Linked DNA regions of Homo sapiens. The protein of the gene in region 1 interacts with the protein of each later gene in a pairwise test. Each region holds a gene or a part of one and is shown on either strand. Other genes may lie near its edges. The genes, in order: GREB1 and LSP1.

What was found.
Region 2: the proteins of GREB1 (region 1) and LSP1 interact in a two-hybrid assay, tested with the Homo sapiens proteins (one large-scale study listed by BioGRID and IntAct).

Annotation. Positions count from the first base shown.
Region 1 is NC_000002.12:11,627,726-11,631,550, reverse strand, and holds part of GREB1 (protein GREB1), read right to left. Parts: intron 1,604-3,825; coding exon 1,442-1,603; intron 1-1,441. UniProt on the Homo sapiens protein: May play a role in estrogen-stimulated cell proliferation. Acts as a regulator of hormone-dependent cancer growth in breast and prostate cancers.
Region 2 is NC_000011.10:1,859,555-1,863,379, reverse strand, and holds part of LSP1 (lymphocyte-specific protein 1), read right to left. Parts: intron 1-3,825. UniProt on the Homo sapiens protein: May play a role in mediating neutrophil activation and chemotaxis.

The DNA.
Region 1 (3,825 bases):
TGAGCACAACAGAGCCCAGAAAATCATCCGGCTGAACCAAGCCCAAACTGCTAGCCCACAGATCCCAAAGCTAATGCTTATTTGGGAATAGTTAGGCAACGGAAATTAACTGGCATATAGCAATTAACCAAATTCATTACCCTCTCATATTAGAATCTAATATTGTGCCCAGAGCACACATTATTCTTGTATGTCTTTAATTTTCCATGCAAATGAACACACAACACCCCCCAATCACTGCCCCATAGAGCTTAGCTATCCACTCGGGTTGTTATATCTTTTATGTAAATAACTGTTTTCTTCAACTCCTTCTTTAACAATAAGTTCAACTGGCAGAGCTAGGCCTTCTGCTCCCTCTGAATTCCTCAGAGCACCTGCCACAACACTGTGCATGCAGCTGGTGCTCATGGCCAGCTCCGCCAGGAAGGCTGGAAGGTGAGTGGAGTGGTGGAGAAACCCCAGCTCTCATATTTCACCCCTGGAATTTCACCGCAACACCCAACCCCAGCCCGTGGGGTAGGAGGTACCTAACAATGAAGTCCTCTTGGGTACATTACAAATATTTTCACTGCTTAATAACAGGCTGCCAGATCTGAAAGGCCAGGGGCAACTCCACAGGTGCCTAGCACTCTGGAGAAGGAAAAGCAGCTTCTCCACATGGCCTGCCTTGAGCGGGGCTGGTTAAAGAGCAGCCAACTGACTCTGAGGTGATCAGGTGAGCACCGTCAAACCAAAAGCTCTACAAGGAGCATCTCTGTAAGAATGGTGAGAGACAATGGAACGTTCAGAACGACCTCTTCAAAAGATAAAGGAAATGTGTCTTTTAGAGAGACACACTGAAATATCTATATCTATAGGTATAAATATGTATAGATAGATGACATGATTTGAGGTCTGGGATTTACTTCCAAACAAAACAGGAAGGCAGAAGAGGAGAGAGGGACGGATGAAACAAGGCTGGCCATGAGTTAGCAATTGCTGGAGTTGGTAATGGGCCCTAGGGATTCACTGTGCTGTCCTATCTACCTAAGCCTACGCAAAATGTTACCTGGCAGAGCATTCAAGAAAAGACAGGGAGGGGATGAACGTCTACCCAGCTCCTGTTATCTTCCGGGCACGGAAGATAGGGCCTTTCATCAGTTATTCCAAACAGTTCTCACCACAAGCTTTTGCAAGTTGCTACTCTCCAATGTAACAATGAGGAAACCAAGGCTTGCAGATATTAAGTGACATGTTCAAGTAACAAAACTAGTAAATGGTAGAGCAAGGCTGAGGCTTGAATTGGAGTGACTCCAGAGCCCGTGCGCGACACCAGCCTCCTCCAAGTTCAGTCCCTGTATCGGTGTCTGCACTCCCTCACAGGAAGCTCTGTCTCTAGTCCCCGGCTCAGTCCCCAGTTGAAGCCACTTGGATCTGTCCCACTAGGTCTCTGAGCCAGTACCTTGTCTGTCACGAGGGGTAGTCGCATGCTCTCCAGCTGGCCTCCAGGTTGGCTGAAGACAAAGTGGTGCTCCTTGGACTTGGGGATGATGAAGTGCAGCTGGATCTCCTCTCCTAGCATGGAGTAAGAGAAGGCAAAGGCGTGCAGGGTGGACTCATACAGCTGGGGTGTGGGGGAAAGGACAGAGCTTGCCGTCAGAGTCCGGCCTGCTTCCCAGAAGACCCCAGGCCCACTCTGCTGTGACAACGTGCAGCTCACAGTCACCACTTCCCTACAGCACAAGAAACCCACGGGGTGACTCCAGTGCAAAGTGCAGACACCCAGGTCTGTTGACAGGGCAAGCACGCCCGAGGCCACACACCCACGACGAGAGCCTGCTCCCATCCTCAGTCCGCATGGGGCCTCACCCTGCTGTGCCAAGCAGGCATCAAGCTTTCTGGTCCCCGTGGCTTTGAACCTGACCAGAGCCCTGTTCTGGGTCACCAACTCAAGCATTCATGCTACAGAGCTCATTTTTAATTCTAATAAATGTATTTCTCCATCACAGTTACATGCAATCACATATTAACACTAGCTGCATATGCTTGGACACTCCTATAACACGGCTCGCCAGGCACCGTTCTGTCCTGTGTGCTGCGATTAACAATCCTACAAAGCAGTACTGTCATCATCCCCATTTTACAGGTGTGAAAACTGACATTCAGAGACCTTGGGCTCTGTCACCAAGTCACCAAGTCTGGCTGCGCCCTTAGTCACCTCCTCCAGCCTCCACTTCCCAGGAGCCTCACACCCCACATCTGTGCACGTGCTGCTCTGGGTGTGACCTCCAGCGCAGCTTTGCCCTCAGCTTGAACGTCCTCTTACGACCCCACCGACCCACGGCCCTTCCTACTGACATCCCCTCCTAGCATGTGCTATGCATGCATCCAGGGTCTGCAGGGAAGGAGGCAGACGAGCACACACTGCTTTAATCTCTGCCATGGCTCTTCTAGACCCACAGAGCCCTTTCTTTGGGAGCAGAGATGAGGGAGAAAGGGATTTTGACTCGGGGAGGCAGTTAAGGAGGACACACTGAGGCAGTTTCATAAAAAAGGTCAAGGGAGCCTTGGGAGGCAAAGGAAGAGAAAACAGAACGAGCAGGTGCAGGCCACATGGAGAGGGCAGCCAGGGGGCCACGCGGCCTCTGCACCCGCACCAGCTGGTTTCAAGCCCCCTCACCGTCCCAGGCATGCTCCTCTTCCACTGTGGCCCCCAGACCTGCGCACCCCTGAGAACACAGGCCAGGCACAGCCCAGCCGGCTGCCTCTCCTCCTCCTCTGCACTCTGGTGTCTGTTGATGCAGCCCGAGGTCCTGATGGCACTACCCACTCCTGACACTGACAGGGATGAGTAGGGACTGACACCCTTCAGTCCCTTTCAGTTCCCTACATTTCAAAATCAAGGACGTGTTTTCATGTATGTTTTTGTTTGCCTTAAAAGAAAAACTACATCTCCAAGAAACAAAATGTTAGGAGAGTTTATCTGGAACAAATGGGATTACTGATTATTTTGACCCTTAAAAAATTGCTCATATGTTCTTTCTTTCATCTACAGTACAATTGCACACTCAAACAATGAGTGCTGCGTCCCCGGCAGCCAAGCTCAAGGCCAGGCAGACAGGTGCTGTTTCCCTCTGTAAAAGGGATGGAAAGAGAGGCCAGTGCTCTTGCCTCAGGCCTTTCTGAAAGCAGCCCAGGACATCAGCTACCCTACATGCCTCTGCTCCCCAGCCAGGCATCTGACTAGCTCCCACCAACTCTGGCTCTCTCCCTCCACCCCTCTCTCCCTTGCTCGGGTCTGAAATGAAAAGAAATATTCAATGTAAAATAAATCCTCTGCCCTGTTTATAAATAACCAGCCTCACAGGCCCTCCATACACCTCCATGGGACTAAGAGACCAGTCTAAACACAGCTCTGCCCACACTGGGCTCCACTTGGAGTTCCCACTGAGAGAGTCCTCGTTCCTCCCCACAGTGCCCACCAGGCATTTTGTGGTCTGGCCTCTGCCTGCCCTCCGAGTTTCGTGGCTGAGTGTACCCACCCCAAAGTCTGGGTTCCAGAAACACCCAACCCACATCACTTCCCATCCCCTGGAAACCCCACCTCCCCTCTCCCACACATGCTGTCCCTCTCCCTTCATCTTATTAATTCTTGGCACCTTGGCAAATTCTTATTAATTCTTCCAAATCTTCTCTCTTCCGCTCCCGACCCAAACAGGATCCTCATTTATAAAACAGGGACAATGAAATTTTAGTGTGAAGTAAATAGGACACTAGATAGGACAGCTCCCATCCAGCACACCTTGGGTGGCTTGCAGGCGTGGCTTCAGGTGACCCACCAGGGCC
Region 2 (3,825 bases), on another chromosome or scaffold:
ATGCCACCCTCTGTCCCTACATTCAAGGAGAACAGCCACCTCTTGCCTCCCCAGCTATCATGACCCTGGCCAGGCCAGGGAGTTGGGGTTGCGCAGCACCTTGGGAACACTGAGGGAAGCAAGGGTGAGGCTGTGAGCAGACGGGCAAGCGGGTGAATCACCGCGGAGGGCAGCACGCCGGGGGTGGCGGCAACAGTCGGAAAATTCCACATGGGACCATAGACCGGGCTGTGGTGACTCAGGTGGTGGGCTACCCCATGGAGACTGCGGGAGTCAGGAAGTCCGTCCCCACTCCCTACATACACACCAGACTGGGTCCCAGGGCCAGTCCTGGAGAGAGGAGCCCACAGCATCTCCCCTCCCCCGGCACAACCCAGGAGGAAGCAGGGAATGTCCACTAGAGACCATGGTGTTGGCCCCACATCCCCAGCATCCACAAAGCTGCAGAGACCACAGGATTCTGGAGTAAGCAGGAGGGATGGTAGCCAGGGCTGGACCTCAGGTTGGACAAATGTTTAGTGAGCTCACCCAGGGGAGGGGAGGTCACCCAGAGGAGGCAAGATTACCTGGGGGAGGTGAGATCACCCAGGGGAGGTGAGATCACCCAGGGGAGGCGAGATTACCTAGGGGAGGTAAGGTCACCCAGGGGAGGTGAGGTCACCCAGGGGAGGTGAGATCACCCAGGGAAAGCTAAATCACTCAGGGGAGGTGAGATTACCAGGGGTAGGGAAGATCACACAGAGAAACTGAGATCACTCAGGGAGGACAGATCACCCAGGTAAGGTGAGATTACCTGGGGTGGGGGGCAGTGAGCATGTGCTTCATTTGCACCTCAACCTGCCTATTTCCTCCTTGCCTCCTGTTTTAACTTCTGGAGGAGTCCCAGCCACAGACAGCCAGGAATGAAATGTGGCCAAGGCATATTTTAGTTCAAAAGAAGGAAGAATATTCCCACAGGGAAAAGAGCTACCTTGGAATGGCAGGACTTCCCTGTCACTAGAGAATGATCATCTGTCAGAAATGCTGATGGATGGGAAGTGACAAGAACAGATATTTACATGTAGCGGCCAAGATTCATGGTTTTACAACTAGAGCATGTCCTGTGAGGGACAATATGGGAGAGTATTTGATGTCAACTCCACTGTTATGTGTGCGCTCATCCATTCACCCACTCATCCATCCATCTACTCATCCATCCATCTCTCTGTCCATCTCTCCATTCATCCATCAGTTCATCCATCCATTTTACCCATCCACCCACCCATCTATTCATCCATCCATTTATCCACTCATCCATGCATCCGTCCATCCACCCATCCACTCATCCATCCATTCATCCATCCATTCATCCATCCATCCATCCACTCATCCATCCATCCACCCATCCATTCACCCATCCATCTATTCATCCATCCATCTATCCATCCACCCATCCATCCACTCATCAATCCATCCATCCATCCATCCATCCATCCGTTCACCCATCCATCTATTCATCCATCTATCCATCCACCCATCCATCCATCCACTCATCAATCCATCCATCCATCCATCCATTCACCCATCCATCTATTCATCCATCCATCTATCCATCCACCCATCCATCCATCCACCCATCCACTCATCCACTCATCCACCAATCCATCCATCCATCCATCCATCCATCCATCCATCCATCCATCCACCCACCCATCCACCCATCCACCCATCTATCCATCCATCCATCCATTCACTTATCCATCTATTCACCTATCCATCCATCCATTTACCCATCCATTCATCCATCCATCCAACCATTCATCTATTTATCTATCCATTATCCATCTATCCATCCATTCATCCATGCATCTATCCATCCACCCATCCATCCATCCACCCATCTATCCATCCATCCATTCATTCATCCATCTGTCTATCCATCTGTCTCTCCATCCTTCCATATATTTATTCAATAAATCTGTACTGAATTCAGACACTTTGAAGGTGCTGGGGATTCAGCATTAACAAAGTCCCTGCTCTTATGATGATCATGTTTCAAGTGTGGGAACAAACACATAAATAAATAAAGGTCAGATGATGGAAAATATGACAGAAAATATAAATCAGGGTAAAGGCATATGGAGTTCTGGAGGGGATTGATATTTTACGTATGATAGCCTCATGGAAATAAGTAATTCTTTCCTTGGGTCTTTATATATGAAAGCCTCATGGAAAGAAGTAATTCTTTTCTTATTTGAAAAGAGATGAGAGAAATGGGAGGAAGTGTTCCTGGAAGAGAGTGCAAAATTCCTGATTTAGTAGTGTCTACTCACACATCCGTCTTTCTAATAGTTTACTCAGCACGGATTCAATTGTCTATTGATTCATTATCTATCTATCTTTCTACTCATCTCTTGTTATATCCACCCACGTATCCATCTATTCATCTATTATCCATATCCATCCATATGTCTACTTCTCCTGACATCCTTCTATTAATCTTTCCAATCATTTATATGTCCATATTCCAGCCATCCAATCATCCACCCATACATAATTCCATCTCATGTGTCCTTCCATCAATACATTCATTTACCCATTTATACACCCATTCATCCATCATCCATTCATCCATAAATCCACTCATCTTTTGTTTTGGTACATTTGCTCATTTAGCTGTTGGGCTGATGATCAGCCAATATGCACAGGTACAACACAGTTCAATATAGGAATATATATAATCAGCACCCATTCCAGTAGATTCATATTTGTACCACATGCTTTGTTAAATATTCTAAATATCACATCTGCATTTATCTATCCACCCATCCATTCGTTCTTTCATCCAAACATCCATATATACATACAGATGTTCTTCTGTCCATCCATCTATTTTTTGTTCATCTGCTCATTTGTTCATCCATTCATCAATTACTAAATAATTCTTTCTATTTATGCATGAGTTATACTCTATTTATACATGAGTCCATCCAACCCATTCATTCATCCACCCCATCCATCTGCCCATCCATTCACCCACCTGTCCATCGATCCATGCACCTATCCATCCACTCATCCCTCCATCCATCCACCCATCCATCCATCATTCAATTATCCATCCATCCATCATTCAATTATCCATCCATCCATCCATCCATTTGTTCCTACTTCCTATCATTCTTCATTCATCTTTCCATTCATTCATACTGTTCTCCATAATTGATTCTTTTCTAATCTTTATTTTTCCTTTCTTATGCAACTAAGACATGGTTCATAAGCTCATGGCCCAAGGATAAAGCAGACCACCATGGCCCAGGAGGCTGAACACCTCAATAGAGCCTAAGCAGGGGCTACAGGGGCAGGGATCTGTCTTCATATTGACACATTCTCATCATCCCCGACACATACCTGCGAATGTATGTTCACAGAGCAGCATCCCAGTGAAAGGTGCTTTGAGCACTGAGAGAGCCCATGGGGACAGGGGAGGTCAGGGTGGTGGCCTCATTGGCTCCCGAGTGATCCCTGGTGGATAAATGTCTGTGATTTAAAGAGGAGGCAGCCTCCAAATGCTTGCAGCATGCATCTGTTCAGTGTGGCCCTCTGTTCAAGCAGGCACTGCTGACAGCAGGAGAATGGGCCAGAGCCACGGGTAGGGGGCAGGGTGGTGGGTCATGGGTGCTGGGGGCTGGGGGCTGGGGGCTGGGGGCTGGAGGCTGGGTGGTGAATGGTGGGTGCTGGGTGGTGGTGATGAAGCTCAGATTTTGGTTGGGACTGGGTCTAAGAGAAAGGCTAAAGGATTATTTCTAGATTCATCTGGAACGAATTGGCTAGATCCTTCTATCCCAA